3 linked regions of the Homo sapiens genome follow. The protein of the gene in region 1 interacts with the protein of each later gene in a pairwise test. Each region holds a gene or a part of one and is shown in the gene's direction. Other genes may lie near its edges.

The links. The genes of interacting proteins can lie anywhere in the genome.
Region 2: the proteins of CCM2 (region 1) and DOK4 interact in binary tests that used the Homo sapiens proteins (3 or more experiments, as listed by UniProt).
Region 3: the proteins of CCM2 (region 1) and TWIST2 interact in binary tests that used the Homo sapiens proteins (3 or more experiments, as listed by UniProt).

What each region holds. Positions count from the first base shown.
Region 1 is NC_000007.14:45,066,190-45,073,214, forward strand, and holds part of CCM2 (cerebral cavernous malformations 2 protein), read left to right. Parts: intron 1-2,253; coding exon 2,254-2,390; intron 2,391-3,636; coding exon 3,637-3,772; intron 3,773-4,199; coding exon of another isoform or gene 4,200-4,348; exon of another isoform or gene 4,349-5,560; coding exon of another isoform or gene 5,561-5,683; intron 5,684-6,536; coding exon 6,537-6,594; intron 6,595-7,025. UniProt on the Homo sapiens protein: Component of the CCM signaling pathway which is a crucial regulator of heart and vessel formation and integrity. May act through the stabilization of endothelial cell junctions. May function as a scaffold protein for MAP2K3-MAP3K3 signaling.
Region 2 is NC_000016.10:57,483,488-57,490,633, reverse strand, and holds the start of DOK4 (docking protein 4), read left to right. Parts: upstream 1-4,140; 5' UTR 4,141-4,329; intron 4,330-7,146. UniProt on the Homo sapiens protein: DOK proteins are enzymatically inert adaptor or scaffolding proteins. They provide a docking platform for the assembly of multimolecular signaling complexes.
Region 3 is NC_000002.12:238,850,680-238,857,704, forward strand, and holds part of TWIST2 (twist-related protein 2), read left to right. Parts: intron 1-384; exon of another isoform or gene 385-7,025. UniProt on the Homo sapiens protein: Binds to the E-box consensus sequence 5'-CANNTG-3' as a heterodimer and inhibits transcriptional activation by MYOD1, MYOG, MEF2A and MEF2C. Also represses expression of pro-inflammatory cytokines such as TNFA and IL1B.

The sequences.
Region 1 (7,025 bases):
AGGAAGAGAGTGAATCCCTGTGTCCTGGGGGCCATCTTCCTTGTTTTTGTGGATGCACCGGAGCAGTTGTGTGTCCCCTGTGTTACATAAGGTGTGCTGTGTTTATTTTTTAATTTTTAAAATATTTTAAAAATTTTTGTAAGGATGAAGTCTCTCTATGTTGCCCACGCTGGTCTTGAACTCCTGGCCTCAAGCGATCCTCCTGCCTTAGCCTCCCAAAGTGTTGGGACTATGGGCATGAGCCACTGCACTGGGCCGCCATGCTGTATTTAGGATTAGGCATCCAGAGTTCTCAGCATAAGAGACTAGCAGGTGAATAGCTAACGTTTACTTGGTGCCTGCTATGTGCAAGCAAGTCTCTGTGCCTCTTTGGACCAAAAGTACGCTGGTATTTGGGATAGCACAGGAGTGGGGAAGTTGGGGGCCAGGTCTAGCTGCAATAGGGTCCATGTGGCAGGAGCTGCTTGGAGGGTGATGACTTGAGTTGGTGCCAGATGGGGCAGGGTCACCCGTGCACCCGTGGTAGCACTTCCTGGATGATATAGGAGAGGCACACAACTCGCTGCCCGCATCCTTAGGCTGCCCACCCTGCTTCCTTGAGAACTACCACAGGCACACACCAGGGAGCCAACATTTAAAAATGTTTAAAAGGTAGAGATTTCTTACCAAACTCATACCAAAAAAAGAAAAAAAGTAAAGGGAAACCAGTAAATTTTTTTTTTTTTTTTTGAGACGGAGTCTCGCTGTGTTGCCCAGGCTGGAGTGTAGTGCCGTGATCTCAGCTCACTGCAAGCTCTGCCTCCCAGGTTCACGCCATTCTCCTGCCTCAGCCTCCTGAGTAGCTGGGACTACAGGCTCCTGCCACCACGCCTGGCTAATTTTTTGTATTTTTAGTAGAGATAGTATTTCACCGTGTTAGCCAGGATGATCTTGATCTCCTGACCTTGTGATCCGCCACCTTGGCCTCCCAAAGTGCTGGGATTACAGGCATGAGCCACTGTGCCCGCCTTTTTTTTTTTTTGAGACAAGTTTGGTGCTTGTTGCCCAGGCTAGAGTGCAATGGTGTGGTCTTGGTTCACTGCAATCTCCGCCCCCCGAGTAGCTGGGATTACAGGCATGAGCCACCACGCCCAGCTAATTTTTTTGTATTTTTAGTAGAGATGGGGTTTCACCATGTTGGCCAGGCTGGTCTTGAACTCCTGACCTCAGGTGATCCACCCGCCTTGGCCTCCCAATGTGCTGGGATTACAGCCATGAGCCACTGCGCCTGGCCAATTATTTTCAATAATATATTTTATTTACCCCTCCGTACCCAAAACATTATTACATCAGTATATAATCAATATAAAAATCGTTGAGCTACATAGCATTCTTTCTTTGCCTACCTCTGAAACCCTGTGTATAGTTTGCACTCACACATTTCAATGTGGGCTCATCACATTTTGCATACTCAGTAGTCCTGTGGCCAGTGGCTGCCATAGGGACAGAGCAGCCCCAGGAGTCTCACTGTGGGGTTTGAGGTACAGTTTCTTATGGAGCCCTTGTCTCTGTGCATGCGCTAACTTTGCATGTGGCCTGGGACGGCCTTCTTCTCCCTCCTGAGGCTGGCCTGCCCTCTGACACCCTGGCACTAGTGGCACTTCTAGGTTTTGTTTTCAGTCTTGAAGTCCTCCCAGGGTGGTCCGAACTGATGGTGAGAGCCCTGCTTCCTGGGGATTGGCCTCACTTCTGCCATCAGGAAAACCACTGAGTTACTCCATGTATTTCAGGAGAACCTCATTTGTCTAGGGAGGCAATGGGTAGGATGTTAGAAACAAGGGCACTGGGGTCTGACCGTCTAGATTGCCATGTGGACAGTGCAACTCACACGCCCTCAGGCCAGGCCTTTCACTTTCCCATGCCTCAGTTTACCCATCTGTAAGAAGGGAACTCCCCAGAACACATGGAAACCTCCTGGAGGTGACTGTTCTCAGGGTTGTATATGTGGTCTGTTGTATATGAACTTGAAGCGTGTGAAACTGCAGGATGACATGCAGCTCTGGTGCCCTTGGAGCTCAGGGGTCGCGTGTTCCCACCCTTATTTAGAGAAGCGAAGTGTGTCTGGTGCAGGCCCTTCACCTGAGTCGTTCTGTGGGTGCCTGAGCCAGGTAAAGGTCCTCTCAGCCTGTTTCCATGGCGGCCTCAGCTGTTTCCTCAAGTGCCCCCATGCCTGCCCTTCCACTGTGCTAAACTGAGATGGTGTTGACTTCTCAGCCCAGGACCCAGGGATCTCCCCCAGCCAGAGTCTGTGTGCGGAAAGTTCCAGAGGCCTCAGTGCAGGCTCCCTGTCGGAGAGTGCAGTTGGGCCCGTGGAGGCATGCTGCCTGGTCATCCTGGCTGCAGAGAGCAAGGTGAGACTTTCTCGCCCCACTTACTCAGAACTGGCTCCTCCCAGACCCTGCTCATGGCCAGCCCCACCCTGGCCACACCCAGCACAGTGCTGGGCACTGCTGGGTGCCCCAGCTACTTCCTCTGCCATTGCCTGTCCCTGCCTCACCCTAGTCTCCACCCAGCCCCACCTCTCTCTGCTCAACCCTGCCCCAGGCATTGCCCCCATCCTGGCCCTGCCCACAGCTCCTCTGCGCATGACTGCATCCCAGGTCCTGCCCCAGGCCCAGGCTCCCCACCGGTTCCCACCCCTGTGCCTTCTGACCCTCCTACCTCCAACCCCCAGCAACTTCTCTGAGACCACCTGGCCACTGAGCTTTTTGCTTATCATTCTTCAAGGTGCCCCCACGCTGATGGGCGGGCAGCGGCGGTCACCTGTGCATCCTAGACCTGCCTGGTGTTAAGGACTGTGCTTGCAGATTCCTCACAACCTGGAAGAGCCAAGGGCTGGGCCCTTGTAGGCTAGGATTTGGGGCCCCCTCAGCCACCCAATAGCTGTGGGGCCTTGGCAGTCACTTAACACCTTTGTTTAATTTCCATATCTGTAAAATGGATGCTAGTGACCACCCACCTTAAATATCCTCTAATGAGCATTTCTCAGTGTTGGTGCTACTGTCATTTTTAGCCGGATAATTTTCCATTGTGGGAGGCTGCCCTGTGCACTGTAGGGTGTTGAGCAGCATCCCAGCTTCTCCCCTTGTGACAGCTGAAAATGTCTCCAGATATTGCTACATGTCCCCTGGGAGGGGTACAAAAATTGCCCCAGTTGAGAGCCTCTGCTTTAGACAGCACACTGTTATAAAACTGTTTTATAGCTGTTAGAAATGCCTCCAGGTGGGCTGTGATACTGATGGTATCTCCTCTCACCTCTTTCCTGGGCTGGGATAGGGTTGTGAGGGTGTTGATAGGTCAGGTTAATGGAAAGAAGACGTTGGACTGGCAGCTAACACTTGTGCCCTGCACAGTCCCCTCACACTTGCAATACCACCCCTGGGCCACATGGCAGTCCTAGATAGAGTCCTGGGGCAGTTGGCTGGGTCTCTCTTTTGACACCCCTTTGGGTCAGTGAAAGGCAGAGGGACACATTCTGGTATCCACTCTTCATTCATGTTTATTGAGCATCTGGGCTGCCCCAGGTATCCTGGAAGCCGCCTGGGAAGGCGCAGTCTCCAGCCAGACTGACCGAGCAGCTGCTGTCCCCCACTGCAGGTCGCTGCGGAGGAGCTTTGCTGTCTGCTAGGCCAGGTCTTCCAGGTTGTTTACACGGAGTCCACCATCGACTTTCTGGACAGAGCGATATTTGATGGGGCCTCTACCCCGACCCACCACCTGTCCCTGCACAGCGGTATGTTGAGTGAGAGTGGGCAGCGGGTGGGAGCAGGGACAGGAGGGGCTACTGCAGTGGCCCCCAGCTCCCCATGAGTTACTCCTGGAATAGCGCAGTTACTGCCGTGACATGGTGGCCTTTTGTTTCCAGACTTTGCTGTTCACATTAGCCCATAGGGTTTCATGAAGGCAGAAGTGTCACCTGTCCTTGAGAGAGTTGCACCAGGTCAGCGCTATGGCTTCCTGGAATAAATTTGGGGTCTGTGAACACTTTTTTGGAACCACTTGTGGCTAAAGTCACTTCACTTAACTCGGAACAAAGAGCTTGGAGAAGGCTCCTAGCACTGGGGCCTGTGATGGAATTGGGGAGGCTGAGAGTGGGTCTGGGGAGCCTCCTTTTCAGTATGCCCAGACTATGGCTGCTCTTAATGTGAAACTCCTTCCAGGACCATGGCCAGACCCATGGGAAGCTGCTCAGGCTGCCCTGGGAGGCCAGCTGGCAGTGGTGGAGCAGTGGCAGATGGGGAAGAATGGAAGGTACCCCAGAGCTGTCTCTTCCTGCATGGCCCACACAGCATTTTCAGGAGTCTGTTAGTCCATTGAAAACACTTCATCAGCAAGCTCACTTGAGTTAAGTCTTCAAAAACATCATCTGTTTTTCAGATGTATTACTTATTGAGGATTAATGGGTTATATAAATTGAGGTGCATAAAAAGCTGTTGGAGGCTGGGTGTGGTGGCTCATGCCTGTAATCCCAGCACTTTGGGAGGCTGAGGCGGGCGGATCACCTGAGGTCGGGAGTTCAAGACCAGCCTGACCAACATGGAGAAACCCTGTCTCTACTAAAAAATACCAAGAAAAAAAAAAAGGCTGTTGGAAACAGTGCGGCTTGTTGAGTACAATTTCTTCTTTTTACGGAGATAAGTCCCAGCCCTCTGCCCTTTCCCCAGTAACTCGCACATCTCAGTGAAGAGAGTAAATGGTGGAGAAGCCTGTGCTGGTGTGAGGGCTGCTCCTCAGTGCCTCCTTCTTCCCTTTCTTGCTGCTGGTGCCAGAGCCCTTTGTGGGCACTACACGCCTTGTGTTGGCCCAGCAGCTGCAGAGAGACAGCTGCTGAGCTCTCAGGCATCCTCTCTATCTCATTTAGTCCTCGGTGGCCCAGCGAGATAGGTGCAATCTTCATCCCCATTTTAGAGATGGGGAAGTGGAGGCTTAGAAGTCAACAGCTTATCCAGAGGAATGTACCATATGAGTAGCAGATGATTTATCGAGCTGTAATTAAACATTCAGTTTTAGTGCGACTGGTTTGGCCCTTGTGCTTTAAAATTCCCAAAGGGCCTTTTTTTCTTTAATAATTTTTTTTTTACTGAGAAGTACACAAGTCATACATGTACAGTTGAATGAATTTTCATAAAGTAAACACATCATGTAACACCACTACTGGGGGTTGCTGAAGTGGGCTTCTTCCCCTGCCAGCCTTTCCCAAGACCTCCCCGTGGGATCCACACACAGATGTGCACACGTTACGCACATGCATGCATTCTCTGCTTATTTCTGCCTTGGAGTTTTGCTTGCTGTGTTCTCTCTACTACAGCTATGCCAAAACATAGCAGCATAAACAGCAGAAATATATTCTCTTATAATTCTATACGTTAAGAGTCCATTGTGGGTCCCACTGGGCTAAAGTTGAGGTGTCCACAGGGCTGGTTCCTTCTGGAGGCTCCAGAGAAGAAGCCATTTCCTTGTCTTTCCAGCTCCTAAAGGCGGCTGCATGCCTTGGCTCATGGCCCTTCCTCTGTCTTCACAGCCAGCCACGTGACCTCTTCCACAGTCACATCTTCCTTTGACTGTCAGCTTCCTCTGCATTTCAGGACTCTTGCAATCACATTGAGCCCACCCAAATTCTCCAGGGTCATCTCCCTATTTCAAGGTCAGCTGATAAGCATCCTTTACTCCCCTTTGAAATTGGTAACATATTCACCAATTCCAGGGATTAGGATGTGGACGTCTTTGGGGGGTCATTATTCTGCCCTCCATACTTACCTTGTTCCTAGTGCCAGAAATGTCCCTTTTATCTCTCAGCCTCTCCCTCTGCTTCATTTAAAATCTTACCCTCTCTGCAACACTCACCTGCCTCGCTCACAAAGCTTTCACTCACTGTCTGTGCTGGTGTGAAATGTGCCTTCCTCAGGTTTGAAATAGCAAATTACAGTCTGTGTCACACGGACCTAATGTCATTTGTTGAATGTAGCTGCTCAGTGCCAGACCCTTTGCTGGTCTGAGGGTCTTGGGAATCCTGTGGCTTCACTGGGTTCAGATGGGGAGTCAGACTGCCCGGCTCTGACTGTGGTTTCTGCTGTGTGACCTGGGCCAAGTTGTGTAACTCTCTGACTTACTTCCTAATCTACAAGTGAAGACAGGGGTGATATATGCCTGGGTTAAAGGAGACAAAGCCCCAGTAACCCTGCCTGGCACATGAGTGATACCTCAAAGACAGCTTTTGCTGGCTCTGGCCATGGGTGAATGTGTACTTCAGCCCAGCGTGCAGCAGGATTTGCATTTGCCAGGATCCCCAGGAGGGGTGTATGTGGGCTCAAGTCTGGGAAGCCCTGCCCTGAGGCACACAGCACATTCCAGAGTGCGGGCAGCTTGATGAAGGACAGCAGGGTCCCTGAAGACCAGGGCTGCCGCTGTCTCCTGTAAATACAGCAGTGGGCTGGACTCAAAATGCCTCCCCACTATGTCCCTGAAAGTCATCTTAGTTTTCTGCATCTTCCTTACAGATGACTCTTCTACAAAAGTGGACATTAAGGAGACCTACGAGGTGGAAGCCAGCACTTTGTGAGTGCACATGCCACCAAGCCCTGCGGTGGGACACGCACCAAATGCGTTGTCTGGTGTTGTCCAGGCTGCAGCCAGTCAGCTCCCCCATCTCAGCTCACCCTCGCTAAGCCATCCCCAGACCCACTGTACCCAGCTTAGTGAATGGCTGAGGCCTGGCTCGCCGCCCTCTCCTCGTAGACTTCTAGAGCCCTTGCTGTCCCTCTTGTCTCTCCCTGCCTACCTTCCCATGGCCTCCCAAGAGTGAGCTTGTAATAGGCATGTTGGATGGAGCTGTTCCCCTGCCCGAGCCTGCCGAGGCGCTGGCCTTCCAGCCCATCTCTGCCACCACCTGGGGCTCTGTAGTAGTTCACCCACTCGCGCTCTCCATTCCTGCCACCTCCCCAACCCTGGCTCCTTCCCCTGCCCAACAATGCTGCCCACTGCCTTGA
Region 2 (7,146 bases), on another chromosome or scaffold:
AAAAAATAAGAGAGGAGGACTTCCACAATTTGATAAAGAGCATCTACAAAAAACCTACAGCTAACGTTGGTCCTTAATGATGAAAAATTGAATGCTCTCCCCGAAGATCAGCAACAGGGTAAGGATGTCAGCTCATACTACAACATAGTGCTGAACATTTTAGCCAATGTGATAAACCACTAACAAATAGGTAGAAAAAGAGGAAAAAAACCTTTTCTACATGCAGATGACATGATTATCTATGTAGAAAATCTCAAAGAATCTACCAAAAAAAAAAAGACAAAAACCTCCTAGAACTAATATGTTCAGCAAGGTTGCAAAATATAATTATACAAAAATTATTTCCATATACCAGCAATGAACTCATTCATGGGCAGCAAAATTAAAAATGCAATACCATTTAAAATCACCAAAAATAAGTAAATAAAATAATTAGGTGGAAAGCTAACAAAATGTGTATAGGACCTGTATGCTGAAAACTCCATAATGCTGATGAAAGACATTAGAAATAAATAAATAAATGGAGAGACATACTGTGTTCTTGAATTGGAAGACTCAGCATAGTAAAAATGTCAATGCTCCCCAATTGATATACAGGTTTAATGTAATTTCTATCAGAATCCCAGCAAGATATTCTGTAGATATAGATAACATTATTCTAAAATTTACATAGAAAGATAGAGAATATTACCAGGACAGCTGAAACAATTTTGAAAAAGAGTAAGTTGGGGCTGGGCGCATTGGCTCATGCCTGTAATCCCAACACTTGGGAGGCCAAGCTGGTAGGATCACTTAAGGCCAGGAGATTGAGACCAACCTGGGCAACATAGTAAGAACTCCATCTCTACACAATAATTTAAAAAATTACTTGGGCATGGTGGTCTCAGCTACTCAGGAGGTTGAGGGTGGAAGATTCCTTGAGCCCAGGCACTCAAGGCTGCAGTGAGCTATGATCATGCCACTGCACACCAGCTTGGGGGACAGAGTGAAACCTTGTGGCAAACAAACAAACCAATAACTTGGGAGGAATTAATAACAATCTACCTCAGAGGTCCCCAATCCCTGGGCCACAGACCGGTACTGGTTGTGGTCTGTTAGGAACCTGGCTGCACAGCAGGAGGTGAGCAGCTATGAATGAAGCTTCATCTGTATTTACAGCCGCTCCTCATTGTTCACATTACCACCTGAGCTCCGCCTCCTGTCAGACCAGCAGCAGCATTAGATTCTCATAGGAACAAAACCCTATTGTGAACTGTGCATGCGAGGGATCTAGGTCATAGGCTCTTTATGAGAATCTAATGCCTGATGATCTGTCACTGTCTCCCATCACCCCCAGATGGGACTGTCTAATTGCAGGAAAACAAGCTCAGGGCTCCCGCTGATTCTACATTATGGTGAGTTGTGTAATTATTTAATTATATATTACAATGTAATCATAATAGAAATAAAGTGCACAATAAAGGTATTGTGCTTGAATCATGCTGAAAACACTCCCACAACATCCATGGAAAAATTATCTTCTATGAAACTGTCTGTGGTGCCAAAAAGTTGGGGACCACTGGTCTACCTGATTTTAAGACTTTTTTTTTTGAGACAGAGTTCCACTCTTTTTGCCCAGGCTGGAGTGCAATGGCGCGATCTTGGCTCACTGCAACCTCTGCCTCCCAGGTTCAAGCGATTCTCCTGCCTCAGCCTCCCGAGCACACGCCACCACACCCAGCTAATTTTGTATTTTTAGTAGAGATGGGGTTTCACCATGTTGGCCAGGCTGGTCTTGAACTCCTGACCTCCAGTAATCCATCCGCCTTGGCCTCCCAAAGTACTGGCATTATAGGCATGAGCCACTGCTCCTGGCCTTAAGACTTACTATATAGGCATAGTAATCAAGACTGTTATTAACAGAGAGATAGACATGCAGATCAGTGAAATAGAACAGAGAATCCAGAAATATGTCCAACTGATTTTTTACGAAGTTGCAAAAGCAATTCAATGAGAGTCTTTTCACCAAATAGAGCTAGAACAATCAGACATCCACAGGCAAAAAAAAAAAAAAATGAAATCAAACCTAAACCAAAAAAAGACATCAAAACCTCTATCAAATCTCACACTTCCTATAAAATTCAACTCAAAATGGATCACAGACTTAAATGTAAAATAAAATTATGGAACTTTCAGAATAAAACACAGGAGAAAATTCAAAGAGTTTTTAGATTAGGCAACAAAAGTGTGATCCATAAAAGGAAACATGGATAATTCAGACTTTATCGAAATTTAAAACTTTTGTTTTGTGAAAGACTCTGTTAAGTGGATGAAAAGACAAGCCAAAAACTGGGAGAAAATATTTGCAAACCACATATTCAACAAAGGACTAGTAGGTAGAATATACAACTCTCGAAATTCAACAGTAAAAAAGCAAATCATCACATGGGGTGCAGTGGCTCATGCCTGTAATCCCAGCACCTTGGGAGGCCGAAGCAGGTGGATTGCTTGAGCTCAGGAGTTTGTGACCAGCCTGGGCAGCATGGTGAAACCCTGTCTCTACAAAAAAATCCAAAAAATTAGCTAGGCGTGGTGGTGCACACCTGTAGACCCAGCTACTGAGGAGCCTGAGCAGGGAGGATCACTTAAGCCCCGAGGCAGAGGTTGCAGTGAGCTGAGATCACACCACTGCACTCCAGCCTCAGTAACAAAAAAAGAAGGCTTTTTATTGTGAAAATTCATTTGTGTTGTTGTTGTTGGCCAAAGCTCCCCTAGAGGTTTCTGGTGTTGAAAAACAGTTTGCTATGATGAATCAAGTGCTGGGAGCTTTAGGGGCTGTGGTTTGAAGCAAAGCAGGTGAGGTCAAGTTTGAAAGACGCATAGGGAGGTCAGGAGGTTGAGGCCCAGGCTAGCTTGGCCATGGGCCTGGGGCTGGTTAGCTCAGGCTGATCACAGACACCACAATGACCATCAGGGAAATTTTCAGACATCCAGAGGCAGCCTCCTTTTAAGCTCCCTGGGCAAGGCTGAGGCCCAGGCGTCTCCGGGGCAGGGGCATGCATTCCATGGGTGGGTGTTGGGATCCTTGGTCCCTCACTGCTTTAGGCCTATTCCTCTGAGACACCTGGACAGTAGCTGGATGTGGAGGTATTTTCATTTCTCAGGATTTTGGCTGTTCAGGTGGCCTATTGTTTTGTTTTGTATATATGGTCTAAAGCAGTGGTTCTCACACATTCGTGTGCATCAGAATCACCTGGCCTGTTAAAACACACATTTCTGCTGGAAACCCCCAAAAATTCTGATTTCATAGGTCTGAGTAGGGCAGGGAATTTGCATTTCTAACAAGTTTCAAGGTGATGGGAAGCTTCTGGTCCAGGGACTACACTTTGAGAAGCCCTGGTGTAAAAAGGTACAGACGTGAAAACCAGAGGGGGGACAGCTCCTCCCCAGAGGAGGCACTGGGCAACTTCTCTTGTCCCTGCCTGGCACAGCTGAGGCCTGTGACTGGGGATTCCGACAGATCAGTGAGTCAACCACTGCACAGGCCCGAAGGGCAGAGGTGAGGGGGTTGGGGGCTGGGTGGGGGCAGCAATGAAGGGGAATGAAGTTTGAGCTTGAGGGCAAAGTCTCAGGGGGACCTAGAATGGGAGAACTGGATGTTTTGAGGGTGGAGAGGAGACCAGGGAAGACAGAGGTGCTGGTGCGGCTACTTGAGGAGGGGTAGCAGAGGAGGTCACTGTGGGGCTGGGAGAGCTGGGCTGTGAGGGCCCAGAGAGTCATGATGGGGTTAGGGGAGCAATGGGTGTGTATGTGATTCCTGAAGAAGTGAAGGAATTGAGATATGGGGGCTGGGAGCTGATGTGGCGTATGGGTGTGTATGTGATTCCTGAAGAAGTGAAGGGGTTGAGATGTGGGGGCTGGGAGCTGATGTGGAGTTCAGCTTTCAGGGGCTGAGAGGCCATGTGGGCTTTGGGGCCCAGGGAGGGGCGGTGGGAATGAGCTGGGGGTACCGGGGGCGACCTGAAGCGGGTGCGGGGGTGCCAGGGCGCCAGGGCAGAATCGCGCGTCCCGCGGCTCGGAGGAATACGGCGGGGGCCGGCCGCCAGGGCGGGGCAGGGGGCGGGGCGCAGCGGCGAGACCTGGCGGAGGGGGGAGCGGAGCGGAGTCCCAGCCGGAGCCCCAGCCGGAGCCCGATCCCTAGCCCTGCGGCCGCGCCTCCCTCGCCGTCCCCGCCTGGAGCCCGGCGCCGCCGCCGCCCTGCCGCCCCCGCCAGCCGCGCCGTGACGCGGGCATGAGCCTGCTCCGCGGCGCCGCTGAGCAGGCGCTCCTGGCCCGGGCCTCGGCGCCCAGGTAAATTGGGGGGCGTGAGGCAGGGAGGGGGACATAGGCCGCCCAGAGCCTGCAAGAGTCTCGGCGACTCCCACCCCTGAGGACCCTCAGTCACTTCCTGAACCTGAGGACGCTCCGTCCCATGGGACCTTCCTACTCTCGGGTGGGGAGCTTAGAGACCCGCCCCCCAAAAGCCAGTGCCTGGGCCCTGAAACTCCCTGCGCTCTCTCCACCCGCAGCTTTCCTCTCCGGGGGAGCCCAGGTCGCGAGCTGACCTCACCCGCACCCACACAAACCTCATCCGAGCAACCCAGGCCCTGCGCTCCCGGGCCTGCCCCCCCGGAAGGGGCATAACCCAGCCCCTGGCAGCTCCCAACCTTCTCTCTGCCTTCCTGCTCCTCCCCGGGGCCTCCTGTTCGCTCACCTCCTCCAAATTCCAAGAGATGATTTTCTGTACCCCAGCTGGCCCCCACTGCCGACCCCCTCCTGCCTATGGGGTTTCTCCCCACAGCCCAAACTCATGGCCAGCTGCCTCCTGTCCTTGAACCTTTCTCCATTGGCCCCCAAGGTCCTGTCCACCTTCTCCCCCAGGGCCCGCAAGGCCCTAGATCCAGTTACATGCTTTCTATTACTGAAAAGGGGCATGAGCCGAGGCTGGGCACCTGGGTGATGTGGCAGAGCAGGGGCTCTGTGCAGCCTGCCTGCCCCAAGCCATGGGGACACGTCAGTTGCTGGGGCGCTTCCGCTTGGATGGAGGGTGTGGGTTGGAGGGGTCTGATGGCCAGGGCAGCGAGGGGCCTGGCAGTATCTCTAGGAGACTCCACTTGGGCAGTGTGAGGTGGGCTTGCTTAGGGCAGGTTCTTTCCTGGACCCTTTCAGAGGGATGTGGCGCTGGTACAGGCTCTTCCTGCCCCCACCCCCAACTCTGATCCCAGGAGCTGTGCCTCCTCTCCCCAGTTGCTTGCCTTGCTGTGCTGGTACTGGTTACTCCCAGCACTTCCCTCCTGGGCAGGGCAGCAGGGCTGGGCATGACCTCACCCCACAACCCTGGCCAAGGTGGGGCCGCCCAACTAGGCCTGGCCTCGATGTCAGCAGCATGCTCTTCCCTGAGGCAGCTCTGAACCAAACTGCGGGTCTTGGGCACAGCTGGTTCTCCAGTAACAACAGCCTGCTGGCCATGCCAGTCAGCGCTGAGACCCAGGAGCTGGGAGCCCACTGTGGCTCACGCACCTCTGGAAGCTGAGCCAGGTCCAGCCAGATGGAGGCTGGTGGTGGTGGAAGAAAGGATGGGGAGGAGGACAAGTCCTGGAGAGAATTACGTGTTCAGCCCCCAAATATTGAGCATCTCCTTCCCACCGGGCACCATTCTGGGAGCTGGGATAGAGCTGTTAACTAGACAGACGAGGCCGAGCCACCAGGGAGCTGACATTCCAGATGTCTCTCTGTGGCCAGAAACAAATGGACAGATGTAAGAACAAGAAAATCCCATGGTGATGTGCGATGAAGACAGCCGCATCTGATGTTGTGAGAGAGGCTGACTAGTGGGGGTCCTTTGGTGAGGGTAGTCAGGGAAGGCCTCCTGGAGGAGGTGGATGAAGCAATGGAATGAACCATGAGCATGTGAGGGAACAATGTTGTAGGTGGGAAACAGCTAGTGCAGTGGTCCCTCGAGGGAGGGGTTTTGGCATGTTGAGGGGTGGGCAGGGGACCCAGGAGAACCAGAGTGGTACGGGGCCACAGCATTACTCTCCTGGCTTAAGGGTCTGGGGGACCATGGCTGTTCAGATGTCCCCTCCTTCTGCCGTCCCTGTCTGCCTAGATGGGTATTTGGTCTGTCTTTGCCATCCACCTTGATGGGACTCACCATGTTTTGGCCGGTGGCCCCTATGGGGATCTGTTGGGAGCACTCCCAGCCGGCCTCTGACAACAATCTTGGGGTGGGGTGGGGGCAGAGCAGCAGGTGATGGGAAATGGCTCTGGTGCTGGAGAGAATCCCACAGATCCAATCTTCGCCGTTGGATCGAGACAGCCAGACGACACTGAGATGGTGTCCAGGTAGGGCTGTTCCTGCAGCCCTGATAAGATCCGATCTGTCAGGGGTGGGGAGGCCCAGCCAGGCAGGCAGCCGCTCGCTCAGTCATTGGTTGCCAGCCTCAGCGCGTTTGTTCTGGAGCCAAAGCCTCCAGGCAGAATCCATGTGCGAGAGGGAGTGCTCAGCATGGCTGCCCTGTGGGGCAGGTGGGCAGTGAGGGCCCTGGGAGTCTCCCTACTCCCCGCCACCCCAGGACACCAGCCCTTCCTGGGGAGAGGAGCATTTTGGAGCTGGCTCTCCCTGCGCGGAAACCTGTGGTGGCCTGGCACCAGGCAGGTACTGTCCCTGGGTAAGCAGCAGTATTGGTACCAGGCTGGGAGGTGGGATGCGGGGGGCCCTTGCTCCCCTCCTCCCTCACTGGAACCCTGAGAGCGACTGCTGGACACCGTGCTTAGCTGGGAGCTCGGAGCTCACAGTGCTGGGGAAGGACCCAAGACCTCAGGTCCTCTCAAAGTAGCAAGCATTCTTCCTGCTGCAGGCCTGTTGGGGACAAGGGCCTGAGGGACAAACAGGGCAGGGGCTACTTCAACCCAATTCCTGGCCTGCCTAGCCTCAGCTGCCCTCCAATTTTTGTATTTTTTTAATTGATTTTTTTGAAATTTTTTAGAAACAGTCTCACTCTATCACCCAGGCTGGAGTGCAGTGGCTTGATCATAGCTCACTGCTACCTGGAATTCCTGAGCTCAAGTGATCCTCCCACCTCGGCCTCCCCAGTAGCTGTGACTACAGGCACGTGCCACATGCCC
Region 3 (7,025 bases), on another chromosome or scaffold:
TGTAATAAATAAATAAAAACAGTGCCAAGAGCTTGTTTGGAAAAAAGCCCTTGAAAATATAATAGATAATTACACAGTTAGTGGGAGAGCTGATGATCTATAAGGAGCCTATTTATTTTTATTTTTACATACTGGACTATAACTGAGTAGTTCAAACAAGCTAGTTTCATTAAATAGATACTCTAAAAGAAGAGAAAAGAAATATGGAAAAATTTTATCCATGAATGATTCTGGACACACCTTGTTTTTATTTATCAGGCACGTTAGGCAGACATCTTGTCATTCTTTTTGTCTTTAACTCATTATTCCCTATAAGATCAATACGATTATAATTGGTTTGATTTCCTGAAAATGTTGCTAAACAGCATTTGTTTTTATTTGTAGCATTTCTAAGAAGCATTAATTATATGCATCAGCAAAGAATCTCTAGACATTTCAGTACATTGTAAGTGATTTTAATGTTTGATGTGGGATGTTTTCACGTATGTGAAGAAAACTGTCAAGACTAACAGCAACAGCAGCACAAAGCCTAAATTGTCCTCTGAAAGGAAGAGAAACGCAAGAGATGGTGGAGTGCGGGTGCTGCCGATATCTATCCTGCCTTTCTTCTTTGGCCTGGTATTTAAAAGCACAATTAGACAATAAATCAGGTGTCTTTGTCCAGTCAGTTGGATTCATCTAATAGAAAAATCTCAAAAGGATTTTTTTAGTATTCTCATTAAATGCCTGAGTCTTCGGAGCAGGGTCCCAGACACCTGGCTTGGAGGGTGGGGGAAGGTGACCATTACTTATCAGACATTTGTCCTGTTCCCTGCTGTGTGGTTAAAGAAAACATCTTCTCTAACTTCTGCATAGTGTGCACAGATTTTCAGTAGATTTCCTCACTCAACAAACTTTTTTTTTTCTGAGAACTTTTAGCTACTTTGAAGAAATTGCATGACCCCTTCACCATCTAATATATGTGAGCCTTTTCCTCCCTCCTGAAAATTTACTTCTCATAGGTGTTTGTTAACTGCTGTATTCAGGATGCTAGAAAATCAGTTCTTCGTGGAGAAGAACAGAAATGCAGAATCCCAATGGAGCTTTTGCTTGCCTAGAAGAAGTAGAATGAAAGGCTGAGCTCCCTGGAATATAAGCAATGTTTGGTTACAAAATACCCATCAATAAGATCTGATGTAGGGATTTGACCTGTTAATGTGGGTCTTTCCCCTTAAATATCAGCAGTCCTTTCGGCCTTGCATCAGGGAAGTCTTGCTACTCATCTTGCTGGAGAGGGAATTCCTCAGACTTCAGTGGCTCTTTGAGGCCATTTGAGATAGAATACTTCACTGAGGTTTCCTGAAACTCATATTTTCATACAGATCTTGAGCTGAACCATGTTCTTGTCATCCTTGCTTCACTCTGTTCTGGGTAGACGGCACAGATGCCGGATTCCTTTTGCCTGGCAAAAAAATTTAAAAAAAGAAAAAAAAACACCACACACATAAAGTAAACTCTTTCTGAGCAGAGCACTATAACTCATAACTTTAGTTTAAATCTGGGCTTTAAAAAAAACAAATATTTTAATAAGCCAATTTTAAAGGCTGAACTTTTATGACGGTTTTTAAGCTTAGTATTTATATTAATCTATTCTCACTGGTGTCTTTAAAAACCCTGTGAATGCATGCTGGAATGTCTGTTTATGTTTGTGTCTTTTCCTGGGAAAGGATAAATGTGCTGCAAAAAGCAAACCAAATACAGAACTCTCCGCTAGCAGAGAGTTCACAAATGAGGCAATAAAATTCAAAGAAGAGATGAATAAGTTACTGTAGCCAAGGACTGGAAAACCATAAAGGAGAAACAGAATCTAAGAGATACAGACATGGATGCTTTCAAACGTAAAGGCAAGATGAAACACTACAAACAGAAACTGATTAAAAAGATATTCCACATGGTCACCTGAGTCTACACGTGATAAAATTGCATAGCACTAAACACACACACACACACGCACATGCACGTGCACACACATGTACACACGAGTGTATGTAAAACTGGTGAAATCTGAATGAGGTCTGGGGACGATATTGACGCCAGTTTCCTGATTATGATAATTGCAAGATGTCATCACTGGGAGAAGGGAGTGAAGATATGAGAATCTCTGTATAATATTTCTTGCAACCTCATGTGAATCTATAATTATCTCAAAATTAAAATAAAAAAGATATTCTACAAAAGTATTAAATCTATATATTTAGATAAGCAAATTATCTAAGAAATTACTACTAAGATTTATCTCAGAGTAATAAACTAAAAATGTGACTTGAGCAAAACTCCACATATTTTTTCTGACGCCATTTGAGGAATCTCAATATATTTCCAATATATAACTAATTAGAAGTGGTTCCCTGTAAGTCTTAAATAAAGAATAGTATCCCAGAAATATGAAAGGTGAAATACCAATTATAATAGCAATACATTTATTCCTATACTAATAAAGAAAATATTTTACACAAAATTTTGGGAAATATCTACCTTAAACTGATACCTGTGTTATATTTGCTTTTTAAGATACTAATTTTATATTAACTTTCATTAAGCATACACACACAATTCTAAAGCCAATGATTTATAAAAATTATTCGCCAAGAAGTATAGAGATTGAAGTTTTAGTATTTGGAGCCATAAGCAGTGAGAGGGAGAGGATATAGCAGAGGAGGGAGGGAGAGAGAGAGAGAGAGAGAGGGAGAGAGGGAGAGATGGAGAGAGAGAAGGAGAGAGGGAGAGATGGAGAGAGAGAGAGAGAGAGAGAGAGAGAGAGAAACTCAAACCCTAAGCCCAGTTATAGTTATTTTTAATGAATAATTGTTTAGAAACATATTTTCTGTTTTTGTTTGGTAGTAACCCTTTGGATGAGATTGAGTGATATTAAACTATGCCTTACCTGAATGCTGATTTGGAAATGAGGGCGGTAGCATTAACAAGGTGAATTTTAAGCTCTTGTAAACTGAGGCACAGTGTGATTTCTCTTCAGCGATTATTAATGGTTGTCACTTCGAAAAGAGACTTGGATCTGAAATTGGAAAAGCCAACACATAACTTGATTCCAGCATGAGGAAAATGTTTTAGTGCTTAGTTAAAAATAGAGTCATTTTGAACCCAAACGGTATCTGACGTGCTTCAGATATCTGGGCTATTTCATCCTCAACTGTGGTGTGATAATATGATGATCCTGTGGTGATGAAGATGAGAGAGCGCGGCTGCGTGAGCTGAGTGCAGTGTCTGCTTGTCTACCGGGGCTGTCCCTCACTGAGCGGTTTTCTATCCTAATATTGTTTTCCTCTGTTATTTGACCAGGGAAAGATTCAGATGACCCAGCTTCTGTCGAAGCCTCATGGAGAACTATAGTTTTACTTCTCAGACCCGAAGAGCAGTGCCTTTAAACTTGGACACATCTCTCCTTTCTTTAGTTCAGATTTTCCCTTCACTGAAATGAAAGACAGGGTTGAACTCAGAAGAGCTTTCGGTTATCACATTCGATTATCCTGGAAAATACTCCTGTCTTTTTAGTTCACATTCTGCCTTAAAAAAATAGCCATCAGTATCTTCTGGGAGGAAATGGTAAATTTTGTTATGTGGTCTGGCATTAGAGTCCTAATTCTCACTGTCTAATTTGACAGACGGTTCACCTCTGTGTCTCTGGATGTGCAGGTCTGGTGTGCGACTGACGGGAAAGATTTGGGCAAACCCCTTGATTTGTATTAACCCTTCGACCTTGACTAAACATCAGACCCCACCCTGTGGCTGAGGTCTGTGGTGTGGTCACAGGCAGAGTCTTTCCGGAGCACCAGGCAGAGCAGCTCCCCCCAGGAGGGGTTAGGGCAACTTTTTGGCCTTTTGCTGTGAGAGGGGAGGGTTAGAGATCCTTTTGCTCTCTTCCCCGTGGAGAAAAAAATGTTGAAACTTTCGTCGTTACTACTGTTTTTCTGTCGCTATCCAGACAAAATGCCACCCTAGCATTTCTGTTAAATCTCTGTAAGTAGATGCCCCTGCTGAAGGGTGGAGAGATTTTGGCCCGCTTCCGAGGCAGGGGCTCCATGAGGGACAGCTTGGAGCATGAACAACCTCCTAAAGGAAAGCACAGGCCAGTCATGTACAATCTCGGGCTCTGCTGCCACGGCAGCTTTCTTTGTCTGTTCTACTTTGAATTAGCATATTCTGTATGTGAAAATGCAAGCAGGCAGCGTTTTCTTTGAATCACGAGATCTACAAGTACCGTTTCCTTTCCTTCATCTCTGCTCTTTGAGTGGTTCGTGTGGCCGGTGCTCAGAGGGCTCGGAGTGGCAAGCTGGCTGCCTGCGTGGACTCCCTGGACCTGCGACTTGTCCTTTACTTCCACAACTCAGACTTTTAGCTCGGCGGAAGAGTGCACAGGCGCAGCGCAAGCTAGCTAGCCTGCAGGGTTGGCAAAACCTATACCGACTGGGTCCCTTCCGGAAAGTTTGTGTGAACTTTAAATCTCAGTCTCAGGGAGACTGTTTTGTCTTGATACATAACAGAATAAGGCAGTTATCATTTCTTTGGGAAATGCCTAAAATACCGCAAATTGGAAGGGAAGGGAAAGGAAGGAGGAGAAGGCATACTCCTCTTTCTCAAATCGGGCATCTACACGTCTCTGTTCACATCATTGACACCAATGGGCGAACAGTGTCTTCATTGAGGATTAATTTTCCTGAAATCAAATAATCCCAAATTGCATACTACATATATACTGGTTTCTAACTAGTCAACATCTTCAACATATGCCCAGCCGCCTGGCTTTCCTCTCGTTCATGATAATCTGCATGCGTAGATGGGAAGCTAGGAGAGAAAGATGTGATCATTTCGCATTCCTTGTTTTCTGTCTGGTGAACATTTCTTCTCCAGCAAGTGTTTCCTACCGCTTCCCCCAAACCTGCATATACTCTTCTATATTCTTTAGTTGAAACAGCATCTTTTAAAAACATGATTAACTGAAGTCCGCTTGAGGTTTCACTTTATAAAAAAGTAATAGAGGAAGAACGAGAAGCCCACCATCAGGTCCCGTGATAGCTCAGTCACACGTGGAAATACAGACTGTAAATACAGAATGGCCGAGGACCCTCTGAGCAAAGGTCATCTAGGGGCTCCCGAAGCCTCGTGCGGCCCATAGATGTGTGCTCAGCACCCCCGCCTCAGTGTGTGCTTGGCGACTCCCTCTCCTTCGTGGGCTCATGTTACTATTTTCTAAAAGTATTGTTTCACTGATACCAGAACAGGAGTGCTCCAAACAGATATCTGTACCCTAAGAATCCCAGGGTGCCCTGTTTTTGTTGATTTCTCTGGTGCAGAAGGACCTGTTTCCACGATCCCCAAACTCCCTGGGGGCCGTGCGGTGGCTGTGGCAGAGGGGGTGCATCCAGGACTGGCGTTTTATGGCCCCCGAGGTAGGGTCAGGAGAGAGCTTATCTTGAGGTCCCGTCTTGTGTGACTGCGAAGGTGTTAATAGGCAGGGTCCAGGTGGCCCATGCGAGCTGGCAGCATTGGAAGGGTAGAATTAATTGAAGGGCATTTTACTGGGTGTTAAATTATTGCTAATTCCAAAACTTTCTTTCAGACTATTTTTTTCTGAGAATAGAGATTTCCTTCTAATTAAACAACAGGCAAAAGATGAGCACGGTTACTCACCTCTCTGCTCGTTTCAGTGTTGCTGTATGTCATCTCCTTTCTTGTTTTACTACAGTTCACAAGTGAATAATATCATGTAATTTCAGTGTGGAACAATGTAATTTCCATGTGCGTCCCCAGCAACCCTGTGTACATTAGTCTATCATTTATAATTTATAACATGGAAAAGTTTTTTTTTTATGAAGGACAAAATAAAAGAGAAGGTTAGGATGTGAATAGGTCAAGTGATATATGAAGAATTTCACAAGGGATCAGGGCTACGGAAGGGACTCAGGTCTCTTAAGAATAGGTCCCATTCTGTATTTATCTTCAGGATTGTGTTGGGGCCGTGTGCCTCTCTCTGCTGCTGGCCATGGGAGACCCGGCACCTCTTCCTCAGTGTCCCTCAGAGACATAGAAGACAGCAGTTTCTCAGAAAAAGCACCCTTCCTGCCGTTCTCAGAAAAACAACACTGTGAAAATCCAGCAGGGCCCCTCCACACTGCTGCAATAGTGCCACGAGGGAGGCCGCTGCAGACACAGTCACTTGAAGAGGACCTCAGGTGCCTTCCCTTCCTGTTTGGTCCCAGGCATCAACACTGCCCAGCAAAGTGTGTCCAAGAAGCCCCAGAGGGGGCCGTGTCTCTGAGGGGCCTGTGACAATCGCAGGTGATTCAGATGCCAGAGAAAGCAGAGGCCCCCAGAGGAAGGTGGTCAGGGGGCCATCTGCTGTGCCTGGGGTCAAGGACCACTGGAGGGAGCTTGGGTTGGCCTGAGACTGTTCAGGGGAGGGGCACCATGGGCATGGTGCCCCTGCATGACGGGCGGGCCCTCCCATGAGAGAGGAAGAGGGGAGCAAGAGGAAGGACGCTGCTGGCTGTTTGCAAGTAGCTGTCCCACCACCCTGGCACTTCCCTGGTCCCTGAGGCTGGACGGGCCTTGGAGCCCATCTTCGCTAAGGCCCAAGTCACCTATCAGCTCGTGCTGATGAATGTCTGAGCATGAGCCCAGCACGGCTCAGCATTTGCCAAGGTTAAGGAAAGGAAGTGGTAACTCAGCATTGATTTCCTCCCCCTGGATTTAATAGCGATAGATCTAAACCTGCAGTCAGATATCACTTTGAAAGCCTTGGCTCATCTAAAGACAGCTTCCAAGAGACGATCAGGCCAGGCCACTGCTGCGGTTTGCAGAGGAAGCAGGACCAGCCCTGTCTTTGCTGAAAGAAGCCAAACGACCATCTTGTCTGTCTCGTAAAGCATCCTTCTGCTTGAATAGCAGAGCTCTTTGAACGGCAATAAAATATTACATTGAGGCTGGGCGCAGTGGCTCATGCCTGTCATCCCAGCATTTTGGGAGGCCAA